3 linked regions of the Homo sapiens genome follow. The protein of the gene in region 1 interacts with the protein of each later gene in a pairwise test. Each region holds a gene or a part of one and is shown in the gene's direction. Other genes may lie near its edges.

Region 1 (3,748 bases):
GTACAGTCTTGATTCCCGAGTGAGGCCATCTGCTTTGTTGGCAGAAATGGGTGGTTTTGAGAAGCAGAGTTCCTTTGTGTCCAGAAAACGGTTCTAATTTTAATCCTGCTAGGGGATCCCAGGCTTTATCAGGAAGCCAATCAGTAGCACTGCGAAGAAGGACCAAAACTCCTCTCCCCCAGCCACAAAGACCCGGACAAAAGATCTTTGGCCGGAAGGGAGAGTTGGGCCCTGTGTCTTGTGAAAGGAGGCTCTCATGCTGTCATGGTGCAAGTCATTTCTTCCCAGAGTGACCTGGCACATCCAGATTGGGCAGCTTAGAGACCACAGACAGTTTCTCAGTGGATTCACAGAGGCCTCTCTCCTCAAGGGTGGTAGAAAACTATTATCAACGCAGGTTTTCAGCAGAATTTGCTCCTGGTCGTGTCCCCATGAAAACAGCCTCCTGTGATAAGAGGCAACTTGATTATTAAGGTTTCTGTTTTTTCCTTATTGGATCACATCGTGGCTATCCTGAAACAGCATTGCCCCTCCTTTTTATTACCATTATTACCTTCAGATTACACTATGCTCACAAGTTTTGATCTGCTTCAGAGGCTCCCTTCCTCTCTCTGGTTCTTCCACTAAATACAAATTTGATTTTGTCAGTTATCTCACCAACTTGTCTCACGTTAGTGTCTCTTGTATTCTTCCACTGCAGTAAGGAGGTAGATGCACAGATCAGCCATCAAATTGATGGAGTTCTTAGGTTTACTTTGTTTTCCTGGCAGCCCCCACCTTTTTAGTACATGTCTCATCCTACTGCTGTTTTTGAGATTGTGAATGTGTATTTTATCCCTCCTTCCACATTTTGGTCTGGCTGCCGGTTCACCTAGGTCAGACTTCCAATTGAGACTGCCCAATCACAGCTAACCATTCTGAGTCAAAGCAGAAGCCTCTGATCTCCTCTCTGCTGGCACTCCTAATAGAGAGTTGCTTCTCTCTGGTCTACCAGAAAGAGGATCATATTGTTTGTAGACAAAACCCTTAGGGCCTGATGGGATCTGATCTCTACCCCCATGCCCTTCTGTTACACAAAGCTTGCAAGACCCATGGTGTGTGTGTTGTGTCTTCCTGCTGCAGGTGGCCCGTAAGCTGGTCATCATTGAGAGCGACCTGGAACGTGCAGAGGAGCGGGCTGAGCTCTCAGAAGGGTAAGCGGGCCCGGCGCCAGGAGGCCACGAATGGGGTGCTGCAGAGCAGTGACTAAACAGCATGACCTTCTGGCAGCTGCACATTACCTGTTTCAGCTCCGGGCTCCTTTTGTGCTCATTTGATGTGGATGAGCCACGAGTATGGAACATGGAGGACTCGTGTGGGGTGTCTTATGTATGAATGCGTGTATCACTGCATGCCTTACCTGCACACTGATTTTGTGAATGGCCTTGTGCATTTCCTGTGTCCACTAACAGCCAAGTCCGACAGCTGGAAGAACAATTAAGAATAATGGATCAGACCTTGAAAGCATTAATGGCTGCAGAGGATAAGGTACTGATGGCTCGTGTGGTTTTTAGGTTTAACTGCAACCCAGACATCTTTCAGCTTCCAATGCCTCCTGGTTCGTTTGGTATAACGACTGCACCTTCACTTCACCCTCTGCTATTTATATCTTGCCTTAAGTGCTTTCCCTTGGTCCTTTATGCTCCTTTGTTTTCCCTTCATAAATGCTCTTTGGGCAGCCAAAAAAGGAGCCAAATTATCGCACTTCAAAGTTGTTGGATTTGGTCACCCTGCCTTCTGCTGTTGCGAGGTTGGGGGGCAGTGTTCCTGGAAAACCTAAACATTTTAATACCTGATGATTTGGCTACTTTAAGGCAGCCCTTCGTCTCTAGGACTCAGTTTTCATTTTTTCCCATCCCTCTCCTTTTTCTCTCCTCCTTCCTTTGGCTTGTCTCCCACCCTTTCTGCCTCTGATCGAAAACATTAGCAAATGTGCCGAGCTTGAAGAAGAATTGAAAACTGTGACGAACAACTTGAAGTCACTGGAGGCTCAGGCTGAGAAGGTAGGCCAGGAGGATGGTGTGGGGGAAAGGCATCTTTTAAGAGCTGCTCAAAAGAGGCCCTGCCAGAAAGCAACACTTACAGTAGACATTTTAGTAAAATGGCAATATTGTGAGGTGATTTTTGGAGAGTTACTAGATAACAAATTCTTTTTTTTAACTAGAGAATTTATTTTATGTTAGGGATATGAGGCATCAATTTAATTTAAACCAAGTGCCAAGTGGATAAGTTATCTTGTTGTTATCCCATGTAAAACAATAGGCAAGAAAGCAGAGAATGTATTGCAGTGTGCCATTTGATATCAGAGGTTCCATTACCTCCTAAGAGATCCTTAACATCTGTTGGCTGAGCTGGCGAGTTCTTTGCATGAGAAGCCATGAGTAGATTGAGCTGCAGCCTGACATCTGGAATGCTCTTTCTAATTACAGTACTCGCAGAAGGAAGACAGATATGAGGAAGAGATCAAGGTCCTTTCCGACAAGCTGAAGGAGGTAATATGAGAGTTGTGGATGAAGCCAACTGGATTTTAAATGAGTTTGTTTTCATGGAACCGGTCAGGGCCTTTTCATTTTAAAGTTCCAATGATCCAAGTCAGGAATATTCAAAGGTCGCCTTGGAGTTTATGTACTGTGCTAACTGCCATTTCTCACAGAGGTGACTGAAACTGACAAGTAGTTTCTGATCCATTTTATAGGTGATGTGCTTCATTTTCATCCTCTAGTTTTCCCTATGTTTGTAGCTACAGGAAACATAAAACTTCCCAACTTTAACTCAAATAAATCATTACAGGCTGAGACTCGGGCTGAGTTTGCGGAGAGGTCAGTAACTAAATTGGAGAAAAGCATTGATGACTTAGAAGGTAAGATCTTAAGTAGTGTTTTTAGTTTAATCCTTATGGTTGAATACCAACCTGGCAAAACAATTTTCCAATTCAAGGGCATCCACATTGATACGCTCCTTTGCACTTGCACATTCTTCCTGTGTGTCCTCTGGGGTTTTTCTCTGTGGCTCTTGAACTCATGAACCTAAGTCTTCTGCTCACGAGGTGACTAGTTAGCCACCAGCCATAGTGGCAAATGCCATCCAGCTTGACTTCATGCTCATTACAAGTGTGGCAGGTTTATTTTTCACTGTGAGTGAGGTGCTTATTGGTGAGAATGACTCTAGTATATTTTATATCTTTAGTGTTACTTCCTAATTAAATTGGGAATGATGTGGTGATTGTGGTCTTGTTTTTAGAAGAACCCATCTTCTTCCAAGTATGAATTCAAAGTAAGGATTTAGGGGTTATTTTAAGTCATATATTATCTTAACAAAATACTTTATATCCTGAAGGAGGAGGGAAAAATTATACTTAAGCATTTCTTCCCTAAGGCACTTAGGTTTTATTTTAGTAATAACCACTCTATCTCACAGATATCCTAAATGTTGAGCTTTGAAGCTTGTGAAGGATTAGCTGTGAACAAGAAAGAAAAAAGACAAATATCTACATCACAGAAGGGATTAGAGAAGGAACTAGTGTTTGGTGCAGATAATAACCAAAATAGTGGAGAAGAGAGAATGACAAATGGTTGCAAAATGATCTGCCAAAGTGCAGCAAAGTATGAAACCTGCAGCATTACAAAAACTAAGTTGCAGACTTGCCATATAAAGTGTGGCGCCCATTGCTTTTCAAGCCTCCTGGACCAGTAATAGGCAGCTTGAGTGG
Region 2 (3,748 bases), on another chromosome or scaffold:
AAGCTGCAGTGAGCTATGATTGTGCCAGTGCACTCCAGCTTGGGTGACAGAGCAAGATTCTGTCTCAAAAAAAGAAAAAAAGAAAAAAGAAAAACAGATATGGAAAGGAAAATACACCACAGGTTTGGAGAAGTTTCTTTTGGTTCATGAATATTCAAAGAACAGCTATTCCTGCCTTCTTGTGGTTCTTTTGGTAGAGGTGGCCATTAACGTGGGAATTTTGTGGGTACTCATTGCCAGTCATCAAAAGCATCTTCCAGCAGTTACTTTTTTTTTTTTTTTTTGAGACAGTATTGCTCTGTCGCCCAGGCTGGAGTGCAGTGACACGATCTTGGCTCACTGCAACCTCTGCCTCCCAGGTTTAAGTGATTATCTTGCCTCAGCCTCCGGAGTAACTGGGATTACAGGCGTGCGCCACCATGCCCAGCTAATTTTGTATTTTTAGTAGAGATGGGGTTTCACCGTGTTGGCCAGGCTGGTCTCGAATTCATGACCTCAAGTGATCCACCTGCCTCAGCCTCCCAAAGTGCTGGAATTACAGGTGTGAGACACTGCGCCCAACCCCAGGGTTCCTTTGAGAAAAGATTTTCTAAGTTGTCTCTCAATCCTATTCAACAAAACAAAATAATATAATTGCATGTTTGGTTTACAAGGCAAAACAAACCTGTATCATATACTAGTTTTATACATTTAAGAACAGCATCAGAACCATAACAATATGTTTGGAGAAGCTGTAATCTTTTATTATATGTAGTTCAAAAGGCTTTTTTGGCAGCGAAGAACCTGGAAACACATTCTGGAAGTGATAATTTTCACAAGACAGAGCACATCTATTTCAGTTGTGTAGGCCTGCCTTAAAGTATGTATAGTAAAATCTTATTAAATGATTACTTAGAAAGAAGGCTAATATGAACTAGAAAAATGTGTAAGTTTATTTTTTGTATTTGTTTTATTTATTTATCTATTAAGACAGAGTCTCGCTCTGTCGCCCAGGCTGGAGTGCAGTGGTGTGATCTCCTCTCACTGCAACCTCTGCCTCCCGGGTTCAAGCAATTCTCCTGCCTCAGCCTCCCAAGTAGCTGGGATTATATAGGCACACACCACCATGCCCAGCTAATTTTTTTGTATTTTTAGTAGAGACAGTGTTTCACCATGTTGGCCAGCCTGGTCTTGAACTCCCAATCTCAGGTGATCCACCCTCCTCGGCCTCCCAAAGTGTTGGGATTACAAGCGTGAGCCACCGCACCTGGCTATGTTTATATTTGTTTTAATAACTTGAACTGAGCTGATGTTACCTTAAGATGTCCTTAGTGGACCCTCTTTTATGAATCTGTAATCATTTTAAGTATTCTTTACAAGTGAATGATTTTACTGTTTTTAAGGATTCTTAGGAAAATATTCTTTTCCTAAATTAAAAAAAAAATCTAAGATCTAAGAAAAAAGGATTATCTAAGCCAGTGGTTTTCAAACTTGAACATTCTTCAAAATTCCCTAAAACGCTTGTTAAAGCACAGATTGCTGGCCCTACCCTAGAGTTTCTGATTCAGTAATTCTGGGGTGGGGCCTGAGAACGTGCATTTCTAGCAAGATCCCAGTTGTTGATGCTGCTGCTCCTGGGACCACACTTTGAGAACCACGGACCTAAGCCACCTTAACTTGAGCTCCTAAGCAAATCATGATGAATTTTAAATTGGTAAGCTCTGAATGAATTAGTTTAATTGTACAGAAATTTAGCATAGTATATAATTTTCTTTAAGTTCCTTATTTTATTTTGATTAATCAATTTCTCTAACACTGAATTCATACTTACTCTGCTTATAGTTTTGCTTTTCATGAACTCTAGTTCTGTTTACTCCAAATATGGTCTGGGAGTATCTGTGAAGTCAAAAGTATTTTTATAGTAATATTAAGACATTATTGCCCTTTTTACTCTCATTTTTCACAAGTGTACAGTGGAGTTTTCCAGAAGCTACATGATGTGTGATGATGTAATTGCTCTCATGGCTGATGGAATGTGTGAAGCAAATATGAGAATCCAGCTATCTTCAATTAAGCCAGCATTAAAAATATTTGCAAAAAATGCAAAGCAGTGCCATTCTTTTCACAAATTTTTTGTTTCAAAAAATGTGGTAATTGTTTTTTTAAAAAATTGTTATTGGTTTGGCACAGTGGTTCACACTTGCAATCCCAGCACTTGGGAGGCTAAGGCAAGAACATTGCTTGAGCCCAGTAGTTCAAGACCAGCCTGGGCAACATGGTGAGACCCCCCATCTCTACAAAAAATTTGAAAAATTAGCCGAGTGTGGTGGCATGCACCTGTGGTTTCAGCTACTGGGGAGACTGAGGTGGGAGGATTGTGTGAGCCTAGGCATTTGAGGCTGCAGTGAGCCATGTTCACACTACTGCACTCCAGCCTGTGTGACAGTGAGACCCTGGCTCAAAAATAAATAAATAAATAAATTGTTATTTATGCTTCTACATAATGGAGTTATTGCTACTTTAAAAGAATTAGTAAACAAATATTTAAAAATATTCTCAGTTTTAATTTCTAAAGGGATCCTAAGATGAAAAAGTTTGAGAACTGTCGCCCAAGGTTTTTAAGAGTGCCATTTTATTCAGCATTTTACTTAAAAGATATTTCAGGTTCTTCATCATTATTTTGACAAATCTGAATTACGTGCATGTAGGATACAAAAACGACACATTCTAATCTGCTCCCGGATTGCTCACCTTGTGAAGAGAGGCTGAATCCTGCAGATATAAAAAGAGCTTCTCAGCTGGCCTCCAAAATGCACAGTCTTCTGGCTCTGATGGTGGGACTTCTCACATGCCAGGTAATAAAACATATATATTAGATATTTTAGTAGGGGAGGAATAAATACTGGGGTTGGACAAAAAGAGAGGCAATAAAAGGAATTAAGTTGTGGAAGAAGAAAATGAAGAATTGAAGATAAAATACAGACCCCTAAGCCATCCATCCAACCCTTCTTCGCCCCATGTCTTCTTTCTGCTTATCTTTCTTGAACACCTAATGCTCACAAGCGTAGAGATAGATAAGATGTAATAAGATAAAAAGAACCCTTTATTAAGTACTTCCCACGTTTCAGCGATGCCCTCCCAGATCAGTAGTCTTGTGCTCTGGTCAGTCTGCGCCTAGTGATTAATGACTGTTCACATTAATGAGCTGTTTGCCCAATCTAAAATACCACGTTTGGTTAGGAGTCGGGGAAGGGCAGTGTAGAGTTGTGTACATTAGTAGAATGAAAAGTGAAGTTGCTGTCAGATGAGTTCAGATGCTGGCTTATCATTTCCTAGCTGTGTAACTTGACCAAGTAACCTAACTTCCATTTCAGTTTCCTTATCTTTAAGATGGGGAAATGATGCTTCTGTCCTGGGAGCTTATAAGCACTGCATTTAATGAAAAAAACAATTAAGGGACATGCACGGCCAGGTGCGGTGGCTCACGCCTGTAATCCCAGCAATTTGGGAGGCCGAGGCGGGCAGATCACCTGAGGTCAGGAGTTCGAGACCAGCCTGGCCAACATAGTGAAACCCCATCTCTACTAAAAATACAAAAATTAGCTGGGCATGGTGGCGGGTGCCTATAATCCCATCTACTTGGGAGGCTGAGGCAGGAGAATAGCTTGAACCTGGGGGGAGAGGTTGCAGTGAGCAGAGATCGCGCCACTGCACTCCAGCCTAGGTGAAAGAGCAAAACTCTATCTCAAAAAAAAAAAAAAAATTAAAA
Region 3 (3,748 bases), on another chromosome or scaffold:
GTGCCCTTCCTGGGAGCCCTGACCTCGCACAGTGCTCACCGTCATGGTGCCACAGCGGGGGTGCCAACGCTGGGGCTGGGTCCCAGGTCCCGTCCTGGTTCTGCCTATGACTTGGCTCATGGGTCCTGCTCGGCTCTTTTTTGTGCCTCGGCATGTTCTGAGAGAGGTGTGGGGGTGAGGGCTCCCCGCTGACCCTCCCGTGGGCGGCACGTGGCATCTGACTCTTGCTCTCTTAACAGCGTGAGGTCGACCGCAACCAGGAGCTCCTGACGCGCATCCGGCAGCTTCAGGAGCGGGAGGCCGGGGCGGAGGAGAAGATGCAGGAGCAGCTGGAGCGCAACAGGCAGTGTCAGCAGAACTTGGATGCTGCCAGCAAGAGGCTGCGTGAGAAAGAGGACAGTCTGGCCCAGGCTGGCGAGGTGAGCGGGGCCTCTGCTGCGCAGGGAGCTGTTTTCCCGAGGAGAGGGAGTGCATGCTCTTGTTTGCCACTGCAGTGCCCGCTTGTGTTTTCACTTGTGCTTCCCACACGGGCAGCTGCGTTTTGTACATAGTTGTCATCAGTAGAAGTATTAATTTTCCATTCTGTAGTTTTCAGTTAAAAAGTTGAGACTTTGGGCCGGGCGCGGTGGCTCACGCCTGTAATCCCAGCACTTTGGGAGGCCGAGGTGGGTGTATCATCTGAGGTTGGGAGTTGGAGACCAGCCTGACCAACATGGTGAAACCCCATCTCTACTAAAAATACAAAAATTAGCCATGCGTGGTGGTGCGCACCTGTAGTCCCAGCCTGTGGGACTCGGGAGGCTGAGGCAGGAGAATCGCTTGAACCCAGGAGGTGGAGGTTGCAGTGAGCTCAGATCACACCATTGCACTCCAGCCTGGGCAACACAGCAAGACTCTGTCTCAAAAAAAAAAAAAAAAGTTAAGCACTTTTTTGCCTTTGTAATTATGAATTTAAATGGATGATGAATCTGTTTTTTGTTGTTTGTGGACGTTTAGTGTGTTTGTGTTCGCTCATGTATGTATGCGACAGGTAGCCCTTCCCTCAGCCCTCGCTTCTGTTGACTTTGGACAGACCCCTAGGACTGGGTTATAAGGTCCCTAGCGATGGCGGTCTCTGCAGCCGTTGTGCTCAGAGGCCTGGCTGAGGGCTCCAATTTCCCCGTAGCCTTCCCTGTCGTGGATGGTGGTCTTTTCTGGAAATAGCTGTTGTTTTGTCAGGAGGCTTAAGGAGGCACGTCTGGATTTGCATATCTTTGACTGTCTGCAAGGTCTACAGGCATCTGATGGCGTCGGATAATTGCCTCTGAACTGGAGCCTGTGTGAACTGCAGTCCTGGTGAAGGTTGCTTGCATTTTAGAAACAGCCCAGACATGGGCACTGGTGGAAATTGGAATCTTCTGACCTCTCCTGTCCTTTGTCTGTGGCGATCAAGATCGCTGGTGCCAAGAGGAAACATGAAAATCTGCTGGTGTGGGGGTGGAGGCGTGGTAGGGGTGGGGTGGGCGTGCAGCGGGGGTCCTGGAGGGGTCCAGAAACTGGCCGCGGGTCCTTCCTGTGGCCGTGCTGGGGAGGCGTGTTCAGGCTGTTCCCCTATCTGCTTCTGGAGGGAACGTTGGCAGGAGAGGAGGCGTGATTGGCTCCCGAGAAGCTGCTCTTGCCTTGCCCATGCTCTGGGTTCCAGTTCCCATGTGCTGGGCTGTACTGGAGTTGGGCCGGGGGCTGTCCCCGCTGCCTGCGGGCACCTGTGGTTCCATGGGGGAGGGTGAGTCGTGCCGAGCACTTCATGAGGGGCAGAGGAGCAGGAGACTGCAGGAGCCGCAGGGCGGTGCCCGGTGGGGTGGGGCATAGTGAGGGGAAGATGGTGGCGCTGCAGGTGCTGCTGCTTTGGCCTGTCATGTCTAAGCCGAGGTGGCCGCTCCTCAGGGAAGCCCTCCCTGCGCACTAGGCCTTGACTGCCTTCTCCTGTCACAGGGTCCTGATTGTCACGCTCCTTACTCTGGAATTATCTTATGCGCCTCTTCCTTGCCAACTGTCCGGCGTCCCCTACAACACGGGTGACCCTGTGGGCAGGTGGGCTCGGCCCTGCATCTGGCCTTGCCCCTGGCACACGGTGCGTATTAATTGAGTTCGGAAGACCTCTGGGAGGATGTGTTTATTGTTAGTATGTTTTTAATACCTTTCTTCTTTGTTGACTCCCAGGTTGATGCTTCACTGTTGTGGTGAAGTAAACCGTACATATTGTGGGCATGTGGGGAGCACGCAGCCCCCATGCGGGCCTTCCCAGAGCGGCGTGGGGTGGACAGCGGTGATAGGCTTCAGCAGGCCCTAAGCTGGGCACGTTCTCAGGGACAGGGAAATGAGTGCTGAGGCCTCCTTGTTTGCGGAGGGTGCCGCCCAGCCAGGCCCACCCAGGTCGTTTGCTGTGTGAGTTTGCCATTGTCCTGTCCTGGGTGCGTGGTCCCCAGGGCTGACATCACGCCCGTGTGTTTCCGTGTGTTAACTTACAGTGATGCTTCTCAGGGTCTGTCCGGCTTTTCACATTGGCTCGACCCACGTGCTCTTTCTTTCTCTGAGGACACCTGGGGTTTTCTGAGCTTTTCCAGAGGGTTAGGGTCCTCAGAAGGTCGCCTGGTGGGAGTGGTCAGGAGGAAGCCTGGCGGTTCTGTCGCGTGCGGGTTCCATGATGTCAGGCAGACCTGCTGTCCTGGAGGCTGCCAGAGGGGCTGCTGGCTTTGCTCAGGGGCCGCCTCCCCAGGGGCGCTCCTGCCCGTGCCGCGTGCTCCCGTTCCAAGCGCACGGCCTCCCCAGCAGGTACCGCCCTGCCCCTTGCACAGCCTCCGTCTTTGTCCTGTTGGTTGGCCAGTGCCTTGCTGTGGTGTGAGGGCGATGTCGCTAGCAAACAGCCGTCATGGTAGCATTGGGGTGGCTAGGGAGGGATGACAGGAGCCACGGTTGGAGGGAAGACCGAAGTGATGGTGTGGCGGGTATGTGGATGTCTGATGGGACTTTGGGAGCGTGGGGCACTGGCACAGAGACTGCCAGGTGCCAGGCCTGAGAGTCCGGGCCCATCTTGGCTGGTGGAGGCTTTTGCTTCTGAAGCCGCCTCACCAAGCCTCCTTTCCAGGGCCCCTGGCTGGGGCCCGGTCTCCTCTGTCAGCTCCTGGGTGGCTTGTGGCAGGCTCTGGGCTGTGCTGCTCTGGAGCACCAGGAGGAGGGTGGGCCCTGCGTGTGAGCGTCTGCCTGACCTGCATCCTCCAGAAGGAGGTGGCTCTGCCCCCTGGCCCTCTGCTCCCCTGCTCCTCTTCCCCCTGCCCTCTGCCCCCCTTGCCCCCTTGCCATCTGCCCCCCTACCGCTCTGCCCCCCTACCCCTCTGCCCGATGCCCCTCTGCCCCCTTATTCCTCTGCCCCTCTGCCTCCTGCCCTGATTATAGCACGTGGGTGGTGTCGCCTCTCCACTCTTCTCATCTCCATGTGCAGGCTCCTTCCACGCACGGGCTCCACTCACTGAGCGGCTCTCTGGTCCCCTCTACTTTTAGACCATCAACGCACTGAAGGGGAGGATCTCGGAACTGCAGTGGAGCGTGATGGACCAGGAGATGCGGGTGAAGCGCCTGGAGTCGGAGAAGCAGGAGCTGCAGGAGCAGCTGGACCTGCAACACAAGTGGGCGGGGCCAGGGTGTGGGGTCGGGGGTCGGGTCACGTGTGGGGGCATGCGTCCCACCTCTCTCCTGGTGGCTGGGTGGGATG

Evidence for each region.
Region 2: the proteins of TPM1 (region 1) and CAGE1 interact in binary tests that used the Homo sapiens proteins (3 or more experiments, as listed by UniProt).
Region 3: the proteins of TPM1 (region 1) and MAD1L1 interact in binary tests that used the Homo sapiens proteins (3 or more experiments, as listed by UniProt).

The regions. Positions count from the first base shown.
Region 1 is NC_000015.10:63,059,747-63,063,494, forward strand, and holds part of TPM1 (tropomyosin alpha-1 chain), read left to right. Parts: intron 1-1,122; coding exon 1,123-1,193; intron 1,194-1,451; coding exon of another isoform or gene 1,452-1,527; intron 1,528-1,966; coding exon 1,967-2,042; intron 2,043-2,468; coding exon 2,469-2,531; intron 2,532-2,829; coding exon 2,830-2,899; coding exon of another isoform or gene 2,900-3,063; exon of another isoform or gene 3,064-3,748. UniProt on the Homo sapiens protein: Binds to actin filaments in muscle and non-muscle cells. Plays a central role, in association with the troponin complex, in the calcium dependent regulation of vertebrate striated muscle contraction.
Region 2 is NC_000006.12:7,369,005-7,372,752, reverse strand, and holds part of CAGE1 (cancer-associated gene 1 protein), read left to right. Parts: intron 1-2,687; coding exon 2,688-2,834; intron 2,835-3,748.
Region 3 is NC_000007.14:2,219,246-2,222,993, reverse strand, and holds part of MAD1L1 (mitotic spindle assembly checkpoint protein MAD1), read left to right. Parts: intron 1-239; coding exon 240-419; intron 420-1,971; coding exon of another isoform or gene 1,972-2,110; intron 2,111-3,537; coding exon 3,538-3,662; intron 3,663-3,748. UniProt on the Homo sapiens protein: Component of the spindle-assembly checkpoint that prevents the onset of anaphase until all chromosomes are properly aligned at the metaphase plate.